3 separate regions of the Homo sapiens genome follow, and regions 1 and 2 are each reported to be linked to region 3. The links are microRNA targets in miRTarBase. Many come from high-throughput screens and were not tested one by one. Region 3 holds a microRNA gene; each other region holds the end of a gene's coding sequence.

Region 1 (3,303 bases), not on the chromosome of region 3:
CGGTGAGAAGCCCTACGAGTGCTGTCAGTGTGGCAAGGCCTTTTGCCACAGCTCTGCGCTGATCCAGCACCAGAGAATCCACACCGGCAAGAAGCCCTACACCTGCGAGTGTGGCAAAGCCTTCCGGCACCGGTCAGCCCTCATTGAGCACTATAAAACCCACACCAGAGAGAAGCCCTACGTGTGCAATCTGTGCGGCAAGTCCTTCCGGGGGAGCTCGCACCTGATTCGCCATCAGAAGATTCATTCTGGGGAGAAGCTATAGAAAGAGGAGCCCACACAAAGCTTGAAAGCCTGTGCCAGATGGAGCCTTTATTCCACGTCGCGTGGTCTCCAAGACCCCACCTACCTCCCTGATGCTGAATGGAAACCTTCCCACCTAAGCGCTCTTGAACATCCCACTAGCAGGAAGGCCCTGTGTGGCCCTGGGCCAAGCACGCCAGCTCTCAGCAGGTTTTCTGCATGGAAGGGAAGGTGGGGTGATAGGGAGGGCAGCCAGAAAAGACAGCTGGCCTTCAGTTTCTCCTTCTTGCATTTGACTCCCAAGCCTACAGGATTTCATTTTGCCCTGTCTTCACATTTCCCAGAATCTAGAAGAATAAATGCCAAGAGGGAGAAAGTTGAATTAAACCCAGGAAAATATCAGAAGAACTCTTTAAAACAGGCTGCAGTCTGGCACTTTTAGAAGACAGAAACCACACTCACAGTCCAAAGCAGTAGAAGAAAAATGAATTCAAAAGTAGATGTGTCAGCAGCAAAGTAGAATTTTCTCACTGCGTTGGGCATTGGTGGGGACAACCAAAACAGGTCTGCAGAGCAAAGGCAGGTCTGGAGGGTGGGTCTTGAGATTGGGGATGAGGGTGGTGAGCCCCTGGGCGTGGCCTCTTAACCCTCTCCTTAGCCCTAGGGCAGTTTCCCTCAGACAGCTCTGTTACAGGAGGATAGAGATTTGATCCTGTTGGCCAGAGGATGTTTGACACCCAGCCGTGACTCAGCCTGGACACCGGACATGACTGCCCTCCAGGAATAACCCCTCCCTGAGACATAGTGTCCCCAAGACCACAGTGTGCCTTGGACATCAGCAGGGCCTGGGTCTGGTCTGTTCTGGCAATGATGCAGCCCTCCTGCCCCAGTGTCAGGGGACCTGGGAAGCTGGGTGGCTTGTTGGAGGAGGCTGTGTTCTAATCAGAAGGTCTGGGTTCAAGTCCTAGTTCCACCCCCTCCTACCTGGGTGAGCTTGAACAAGTCCTGTAACTTCCCCAGGCTCCATTCCCCCATCCAAGAGTTGGGGTAATGGGAACTGGCCACGTGCCTCTAAGGGTTGGTGCCAGGCTGTCATTCAGAACACAGCCACTGTGAAAGTGCTTTGGCAACTGTGAGCAGTCATGGTGACTGAGGACAGAGACCCAGAGTGACCCCTGCCCCACCCCTGTGCATTTCCACGGACTGGAGAGATGTTCCCGTCTGGTTTCTGAGCAGTGGGACCTCTCATTGAACAGGGCTTTCTCTCCCTCCACCCCTTGCAGCCTGGGCTGTGTATGCCTGCGGATGCAGTGTCCCACACAAGGACACTTCCTCTAGGATGCCATCCTGAGCCTCCTGTAGCAGCAGTGTCATTCTGCACTTCCACATTCTGTCTGTCTTCCCCGCCTGCCAACTAGGAGTTCACGTGGGGCTTGTTTAAACAGTACCATTGCTTGTGTCCCACCTGGACCAGTTCAGTCAGCCCCAGTGGTGGCATGTTTTAAAGCTCCCCAGGTGATTATAACTTCCTAGTGTGCAGCCAGGCTGTGGGCCCTGTGCTGGGCTTTTTTTTTTGAGATGGAGTGTTGCCCTGTTGCCAGGCTGGAATGCAGTGGCGTGATCTTGGCTTACTGCAAGCTCTGCCTCCTGGGTTCAAGCGATTCCCCTGCTTCAGCCTCCTGAGTAGCTGGGACTACAGGTGCGTGCCACCATGCCTGGCTAATTTTTTGTATTTTTAGTACAGACGGGGTTTCACCATGTTGGCCAGGATGGTCTCGATCTCTTGACCTCGTGATCTGCCCGCCTTGACCTCCCAAAGTGCCGGGATTACAGGCATGAGCCTCCACACCTGGCCCATGCTGGGTTTTTGTGCATCCCTCGACAGCTTCCAATGTCAGCCTGCTGGCTTTGGCTGAGCAGAGCTTGAAGGCCATTCTGTCTCAGTGCCCTCACTCCCTGCTCCCCGCACCCGGAGCCTCAGGGATGGGCTCAGGCTGATGGTCAGCTGGGCGCTTGGAAAGTGTTTGGCTGGGGCCTTGGGGATCTCTTTAGTCCTGGCTTCCCTTGGGCTCCTCAGAGCTAGTGGGGAAGGAGGCAGTCTAGGCTGTTTTGAAGTTTCCTAAACATTTATGGCTGGGCTAACATGAACTCATCATGGTAACACTGGGTATTTCAGCTGATCAGAAGCTCAGCATGGCCATTATGCCTAGTTTTGATGAATAAACATGGGAAAGCCATAACTGTTACTAAGTGGGTCTTGATAGGCCAGAGATTTCCAAATGACAGATATGATGGGCTGGAGAGGTCATGGTGGGAGTTCCAGCCATGCCTCTGTCCAGCCCCTGTCTTTGCTACGTATGTGAAACATTTAACATTTAACCAGCACTCCATTGTCCACCAGAACCCTCTGTGTAACCAGTTGGACTGACTGGATGGTGCCCTGGGCATTGCCTGCAAGTGGCCTGTCATTTCAGGCCTGTCTCTATCAAGAGTGAAGAGAGAATGCTAGGATGCAGTGGGGACAGCAGGCGGCATCAAGCAGGGGTCCCTGAAAGATCTACCTCCTCTTTACACCTGCCCCTCTTCCCCACCGTTATCATCTGGCAAATGTCTGTTACCTATCTTTGGTTTCTCCCTCCCCATCCTTCCTGCACACCCCAGCCAAATTGATTTTTAAAGCATCATTTTGCACAAGTCACCACTCTCCTTAAAACCAACTTTCAGGAGCTTTCCTGCACGTAAACCCTCGTTTCAGCCAACCTGGTTTACCCACTCTGAGCAAGCCGCATGGAGATCAGGCCGCCCCTGCCCACTCCAGCATCACTCCCAGCTCATAATTCTGTGCTGTTCTTGCATTTTGAAATGTGCACTTTCTCCTCCTCTCCCTCCCTCTCTCTTTCTAATTTTTGTGTAACGTGGAGATGAAGATCCCCCCTCTCTCCCAAGGGTTAACAGATAAACATGGTAAGACCAGGTTCTTTTTTGGAAGTATGACCAGAGCCTCATTCCCTCTGTTCAAATTCTTTCCTTGTTTTATTAGTTTTTTTTTTTTTTTTTTTT
Region 2 (3,000 bases), not on the chromosome of region 3:
CATCTAGGGCCGCATCTTTTTATGTTTCCACACCCACAACCCAGTGCAGCCTTGGCCTCAGACTCCTTCCCTGAAATTAGAACCTGCCTCTGTGCTTCTCCCTCAGTAAACTGTTTTGTTTTCTTTGCTAGGCTGTGGTTACTGGTTCCCTCCACCGTCTCAATACAATGTTTCTGAGATACCCTCATCAGACCCACCAACCAAGACCCTCTGGCTCTTTGATATTGATCGGGACCCTGAAGAAAGACATGACCTGTCCAGAGAATATCCTCACATCGTCACAAAGCTCCTGTCCCGCCTACAGTTCTACCATAAACACTCAGTCCCCGTGTACTTCCCTGCACAGGACCCCCGCTGTGATCCCAAGGCCACTGGGGTGTGGGGCCCTTGGATGTAGGATTTCAGGGAGGCTAGAAAACCTTTCAATTGGAAGTTGGACCTCAGGCCTTTTCTCACGACTCTTGTCTCATTTGTTATCCCAACCTGGGTTCACTTGGCCCTTCTCTTGCTCTTAAACCACACCGAGGTGTCTAATTTCAACCCCTAATGCATTTAAGAAGCTGATAAAATCTGCAACACTCCTGCTGTTGGCTGGAGCATGTGTCTAGAGGTGGGGGTGGCTGGGTTTATCCCCCTTTCCTAAGCCTTGGGACAGCTGGGAACTTAACTTGAAATAGGAAGTTCTCACTGAATCCTGGAGGCTGGAACAGCTGGCTCTTTTAGACTCACAAGTCAGACGTTCGATTCCCCTCTGCCAATAGCCAGTTTTATTGGAGTGAATCACATTTCTTACGCAAATGAAGGGAGCAGACAGTGATTAATGGTTCTGTTGGCCAAGGCTTCTCCCTGTCGGTGAAGGATCATGTTCAGGCACTCCAAGTGAACCACCCCTCTTGGTTCACCCCTTACTCACTTATCTCATCACAGAGCATAAGGCCCATTTTGTTGTTCAGGTCAACAGCAAAATGCCTGCACCATGACTGTGGCTTTTAAAATAAAGAAATGTGTTTTTATCGTAATTTATTTCCCCCCAGCCATTGCTCACTCTGTCTAGACTTCCTGCCACTTCCAATTCTTCTGTGGCTTTTCCTGCCTTTCCTTTTGACCTCAGTAGTCCTATCCCTGGGAAGGCCACTTTGCTTCTCTACCTGAGCACCCCTGATTTCTGGAACGCTGCTGAGCCCTGCCTTACTTTTGCCCCTAGGGCTGAAGCTAGAGGCCTCCCCGTAATAGGCGGTGGAGTTGCTCTGTGAGGATGTTCATGGTAGACACTAAGAGGGCTGGGTGGGAGATGCTTGGCTCTGTGGCATCTGTTCAGCGAGGCTTTTCCTATATTGCATGGAGTTAGTCATTGTGATTGTAGCTTTATTTCATAATATATTAAGACTTGCACTGCTATTTACTAGCAGTGAGAAGAAACCTCAGGAAAGGATATGAAAAAGCAAGTGGCCAGTGTCTGGGATACTGGGCCTTGGTAAAGCAGAGGAGGGCACACCCACAGTCCTCTTATTCTCTGTTTTACTGCTTGTTTTGAGGTTCTGGGGTCTGGCAAAGAGGATGCAGTTTGACACCTGCAGCCCTTTCTCAATCCCACTAATGTCTTACTAATGTGGAACAGTCCATATTAGCTCCAGAGAGTGTCAAACCCAGAGAAATGTGTGCAAAAATGATACTCTTTTCTGCATTAGCCCCACCATTGTGTTCACCAATGCTTGGAACACTGCCTGAAGGCACTCATTTTTTAATTTTTATTTTATTTTTAATTTTTTATATCTTTATGAGACGATCTCACTCTGTCACCAGGTTGGAGTACAGTGGTACAATCACAACTCACCGTAGCCTCAAACTCCTGGGCTCAAGTGATTCTCCCACCTCAGGCACCCAAATAGCTGGAACTACAGGCATATACCGCCACACCCAGCTAATTTTATTTTTTGAAAAGACAAGGTTCCCTATGTTGCCCAGCTGGTCTTAAACTCCTGGGCTCCAGCAATTATCCCAGCTTGGGCTCCAAAAGTGCTGGGATTACAGGCATGAGTCACCATGCCTGGCCTCATTTTTTAAAACAAATGAATAAATGGACAAATGAGTAAATGAGAAAGTCTCACACCATGAAAGATGCTAGTCCAATGAGCTGAATACAGAGGTAATATAAATGTCTTCCAGCTGTTGCTTTTCTGTTCTCAAGCTGCCCCTCCTGGGGTAGGAGCATAATCTACATCACTGGGCAGTCACAGGACACTCTATAGCAAGGTTGTAGCGTCCTCTCCAGTGGGGGGAGAAAAGGAACTGTGCCTACCAAAGGTACTCTCTTGTCAGCAATTTCCATTTCTATACTTTATGGGACACTAGAAACTAAAAGCAACAAATAATCTGATATAAGTCCTTGTATAGTCATCCTTCAATTCAGTAGCAATATTTTCTGGTCACTACTAACCTGTATTGTATTAAAATGAGACTATTGGAAGGAAATGGTGCTAAAACTAATAACATCTCTTACCAACCTTTACCCAACTCCTGGGTTGGCAAACAGCTGACCAAACTGCCATCACCTCCCACTTGGAAGTGTATGGCCGACAGCATGAAATAGCTGAGCCCAGATGTTCCTTCTGCATCCTCCGAATCCCAGGGCTGGGTGTAGGTAGCCGTTGGAGGCCATCGCTACAGGGCACCTATCTGTTATCGCTGCTGTCCTCCCAACAGCTGTCTCCAGTTCTAGTTCCTTGGTTTTCAGGCACAGTGGGGGATGTTCTGCACCCAGTGGACTTCAAAAGAGTTTTGAAGACTTAATTTTTTGTAAAACAAGTACTTGAGATTTTGGTTTATCCATAATAGAATGTATTTCATTAGATTCTCTGATTCTATATAAGAATGTGAAAAGATTGATATATTGTTGTTAGAAATAATGTTATTTCTTTCCAATTTTTTTTTTTTTTTTTTTTGAGATGGAGTCTCGCTCTGTCACCCAGGCTGGAGTGCAGTGGTGTGATCTCGGCTCAC
Region 3 (3,347 bases):
TGGTCCCAGCCACTTGGGAGGCTGAGGCGGGAGGATCACTTGAGCCTGGGAGCTCGACACTGTAGTGAGCCCTGATTGCACCACTGCACACCAGCCTGGGTGACAGAGCGAGACCCTGGCTCAAAAACAGGAAAAAGGCCGGACACGGTGGCTCATGCCTGTAATCCCAGCACTTTGGGAGGCCGAGGCGGGTGGATCACGAGGTCAGGAGATTGAGACCCTCCTGGCTAACATGGTGAAACCCCGTCTCTACTAAAAATACAAAAAATTAGCCGGACGTGGTGGCACACGCCTGTAGTCCCAGCTACTTGGGAGGCTGAGGCAGGAGAATTGCTTGGACCTGAGAGGAGGAGGTTGCAGTGAGCCGAGATTGTGCCACTGCACTCCAGCCTGGTGATAGAGTGAGACTCCTTCTGAAAACAGAAACAAAAACAAAACAATAAAAAGAAAAAGAAAAAAAAATCCATCCTATCAGGAAGGGCAAGTGGGAACTCAGGCACAAGCTGAAGCTGATGTCCACAGGTGGAATTTCTTCATCCGAAAAGTCTCTGATCTGCTTTTTAAAACATTCAGCTGATTGAATGAGACCCACCTAGAACAAGCAGGATCACCTCTCCCACTTACAGTCAGCTGATTATGGATTTTCATCACATCCAGAAAATACCTCCACTGGGCCGGGTGCGGTGGCTCACGCCTGTAATCCCAGCACTCTGGGAGGCCGAGGCAGGTGAATCACCTGAGGTCAGGAGTTCGAGACCAGCCTGTCCAACATGGTGAAACCCCGTCTCTACTAAAAATACAAAAAAGCCGGCGTGTTGGTGGACGCCTGTAATTCCAGCTACTCGGGAGGCTCAGTCAGGAGAATCTCTTGAACCCGGGAGGCAGAGCTTGCAGTGAGCTGAGATTGCACCATTACACTCCAGCCTGGGCAACAAGAGCAAAACTCTGTCTCAAAAAAATGAAAAGAAAAGAAAATACCTCCATGGGGCCTTCTCTTCCCAGTTCTTCCTGGAGTCGGGGAAAAGCTGGGTTGAGAAGGTGAAAAGAAAAAACAAACCTTGACTGGGCACAGTGGTTCACACCTGTAACCCCAGCACTTTGGAGGCTGAGGCAGGCGGATCATGAGGTCAAGAGATTGAGACCACCCTGGCCAACATGGTGAAACCCCATCTCTCCTAAAAATACAAAAATTAGCGGGCGTGGTGGCATGTGCCTATAGTCCCAGCTACTTGGGAGGCTGAGGTAGGAGAATCACTTGAACCCAGGAGACAGAGGTTGCAGTGAGCCGAGATCGTGCCACTGCACTCCAGCCTGGCAACAGAGCGAGACTCCGTCTCAAAAAAAAAAAAAAAAAAAAAAACCACAAACAAACCAACCTTCATGGCAACATCTAGATTAGTGTCTGAATAACTGTGGATCTCGCCTAGCCAAGCTGACACATTAACATGACTATCAGGGTCCATCTCTTGTCAACCTGGCACCTGTCTTAGTTTGTCAGGGCTGCCTTAACAAAATACCACCCTGCGTGGCTTAAATGACAGACATTTACTTCTCAAAATCCCTGGAATTGTGAGAGGCTGGAAAGACAAAGATCCAGATTCTGGCAGGGTTCTGTTTCTGGTGTAGCCTGCTTTCCTGCCTTGCAGAGGGCCATCATTTCACTGTGCGCTCACATGGGACACGGAGAGAGAGATCCCTGGTATCTCTTCCCTTTATAAGGAAGGCCAGGCATGGTGGCTCATGCCTATAATCCCAGCACTTTGGGAGGATGGTGGATCGCTTGAGTCCAGGAGTTCGAGACCAGCATGGGCAACATGGTGAAACCCCGTCTCTAAAAAATACAACAAATTGGCCAGGCATGGTGGTGCATACCTCTAGTCCTAGCTACTCAAGAGGCTGAGGTGGGAGGATCACCTGGGCCTGGGAGGTTGAGGCTGCGGTGAGCCGTGATCATGCCACTGCACTCCAGCCTAGGTGACAGAACACGATTGTCTCAGAAAAAAAAAAAAAAAAAAAAAAAAAAAGGTCACCAGTCCCATTGGATTACAGCCACACTCTTTCGGCCTCAATTAACCTTAATTACCTCCATAAAGGCACCGTCTCCAGATATAGTTGCATTGGAGGTTAGGGTTTCAACATAAGAATTTTGGGGGAGACACAGACATTTAGTCCATAACAGCACCCATACATATCTCCTTAAATCATAGTTTAAAAATATACAGGTTTTCTTTTTTGGAGACAGCGTCTCAGTCTGTCACCCAGGCTGGAGTGCAGTGGCGCGATCTCAGCTCACCACAACCTCCACTTCCCAGGCTCAAGCGATTCTCCTGCCTCAGCCTACCGAGTAGCTGGGATTACAGGCACACACCATTACTGCCCGGCTAATTTTTGTATTTCTAGTAGAGACGGGGTTTCACCACGTTGGCCAGGCTGGTCTTGAACTCCTGACCTCAAATGATCCACCCGCCTTGCCCTCCCACAGTGCTGGGATTACAGGCATGAGCCACCGCGCCTGTCCAAAACATACAGTTCTTTAAGCCAAGATGTCTCAAGGTTCAGCCCAAGTGTCAAGATCTATATAGGTCCTCTGTCCCTGTTATTCATGCTTCTGAGTGAGAATGTTGAAATCGGGGCTCTGCCTACAGATGAAGGCCATGTACCTGCATTGGCTATGAGGACAGATGACAGGTGAGGACCATCCATTCTGTGATGAGACCCTGTGGCTCCATTGTTTTGTGTGTGTGAGACAGAGTCTTGCTCCGTCACCCAGGATGGAGTGCAGTGGCGTGGTCTTGGCTCACTGCAACCTCTACCTCCTGGGTTCAAGCAATTCTCCTGCTTCAGCCTCCCAAATAGCTGGGATTACAGGTGCGCACCACCACTCCTGGCTAATTTTTGTATTTTTAGTAGACGGGGTTTCACCATGTTGGCCAGGCTGGTTTCAAGTAATCCACCCTCCTCAGCCTCCCCAAGTGCTGGGATTACAGACATGAGCCACTGCGCTGGGCCCCATGCGCCTCCATTTTTGTATGGTGTGCCCTGCAATTAGAGCCATATTCTTGGATGTTCCATTGGGTATTAGGTCTGAGACAGCATCTCTAGCTCCGTGGGTGCCACGCTTGTACAGAAATCCTGATTCTGGGCCAGGCACGGTGGCTCACACCTGTAATCCCAGCACTTTGGGAGGCCAAGGCGGGCGGATCATGAGGTCAGGAGTTAGAGACCAGCCTGGCCAACATGGTGAAACCCTGTCTCTACTAAAACTAGAAAAATTAGCTGGGTGTGGTGGCGGGTACCTATAATCCCAGCTACTCGGGAGGCTGAGGCAGGAGAATCATTTGAACCTG

What was found. The annotated mature microRNA hsa-miR-320e reads AAAGCUGGGUUGAGAAGG and lies in region 3 at 1,022-1,039, shown strand. An mRNA with a match to its seed (bases 2 to 7 or 8) in the 3' UTR can be bound and repressed. Matches are read on the target gene's strand: a 7mer-m8 pairs with bases 2 to 8, a 7mer-A1 pairs with bases 2 to 7 and ends in A, and an 8mer does both.
Region 1: miRTarBase lists ZNF70 as a target of hsa-miR-320e. The part of its 3' UTR that is shown has no 7-base or 8-base seed match.
Region 2: miRTarBase lists ARSB as a target of hsa-miR-320e. Seed matches in the 3' UTR shown: 7mer-m8 at 1,999-2,005.

What each region holds. Positions count from the first base shown.
Region 1 is chr22:23,740,762-23,744,064 of GRCh38, reverse strand. ZNF70 (zinc finger protein 70) reads left to right here. Exons shown (of 2, transcript NM_021916.4): 2 at 1-3,303. The coding sequence ends at 265. Among named protein-coding and RNA genes, the nearest start is that of ZNF70, 8.7 kb to the left of the region's middle.
Region 2 is chr5:78,777,794-78,780,793 of GRCh38, reverse strand. It overlaps ARSB (arylsulfatase B), which reads left to right. Exons shown (of 8, transcript NM_000046.5): 8 at 132-3,000. The coding sequence ends at 397. Among named protein-coding and RNA genes, the nearest start is that of LHFPL2, 130 kb to the right of the region's middle.
Region 3 is chr19:46,706,986-46,710,332 of GRCh38, reverse strand. It overlaps MIR320E (microRNA 320e), which reads left to right and starts at 979; the gene lies at 979-1,051. The region is part of intron 3 of PRKD2 (protein kinase D2); the gene reads left to right. RefSeq lists an enhancer at 1-484.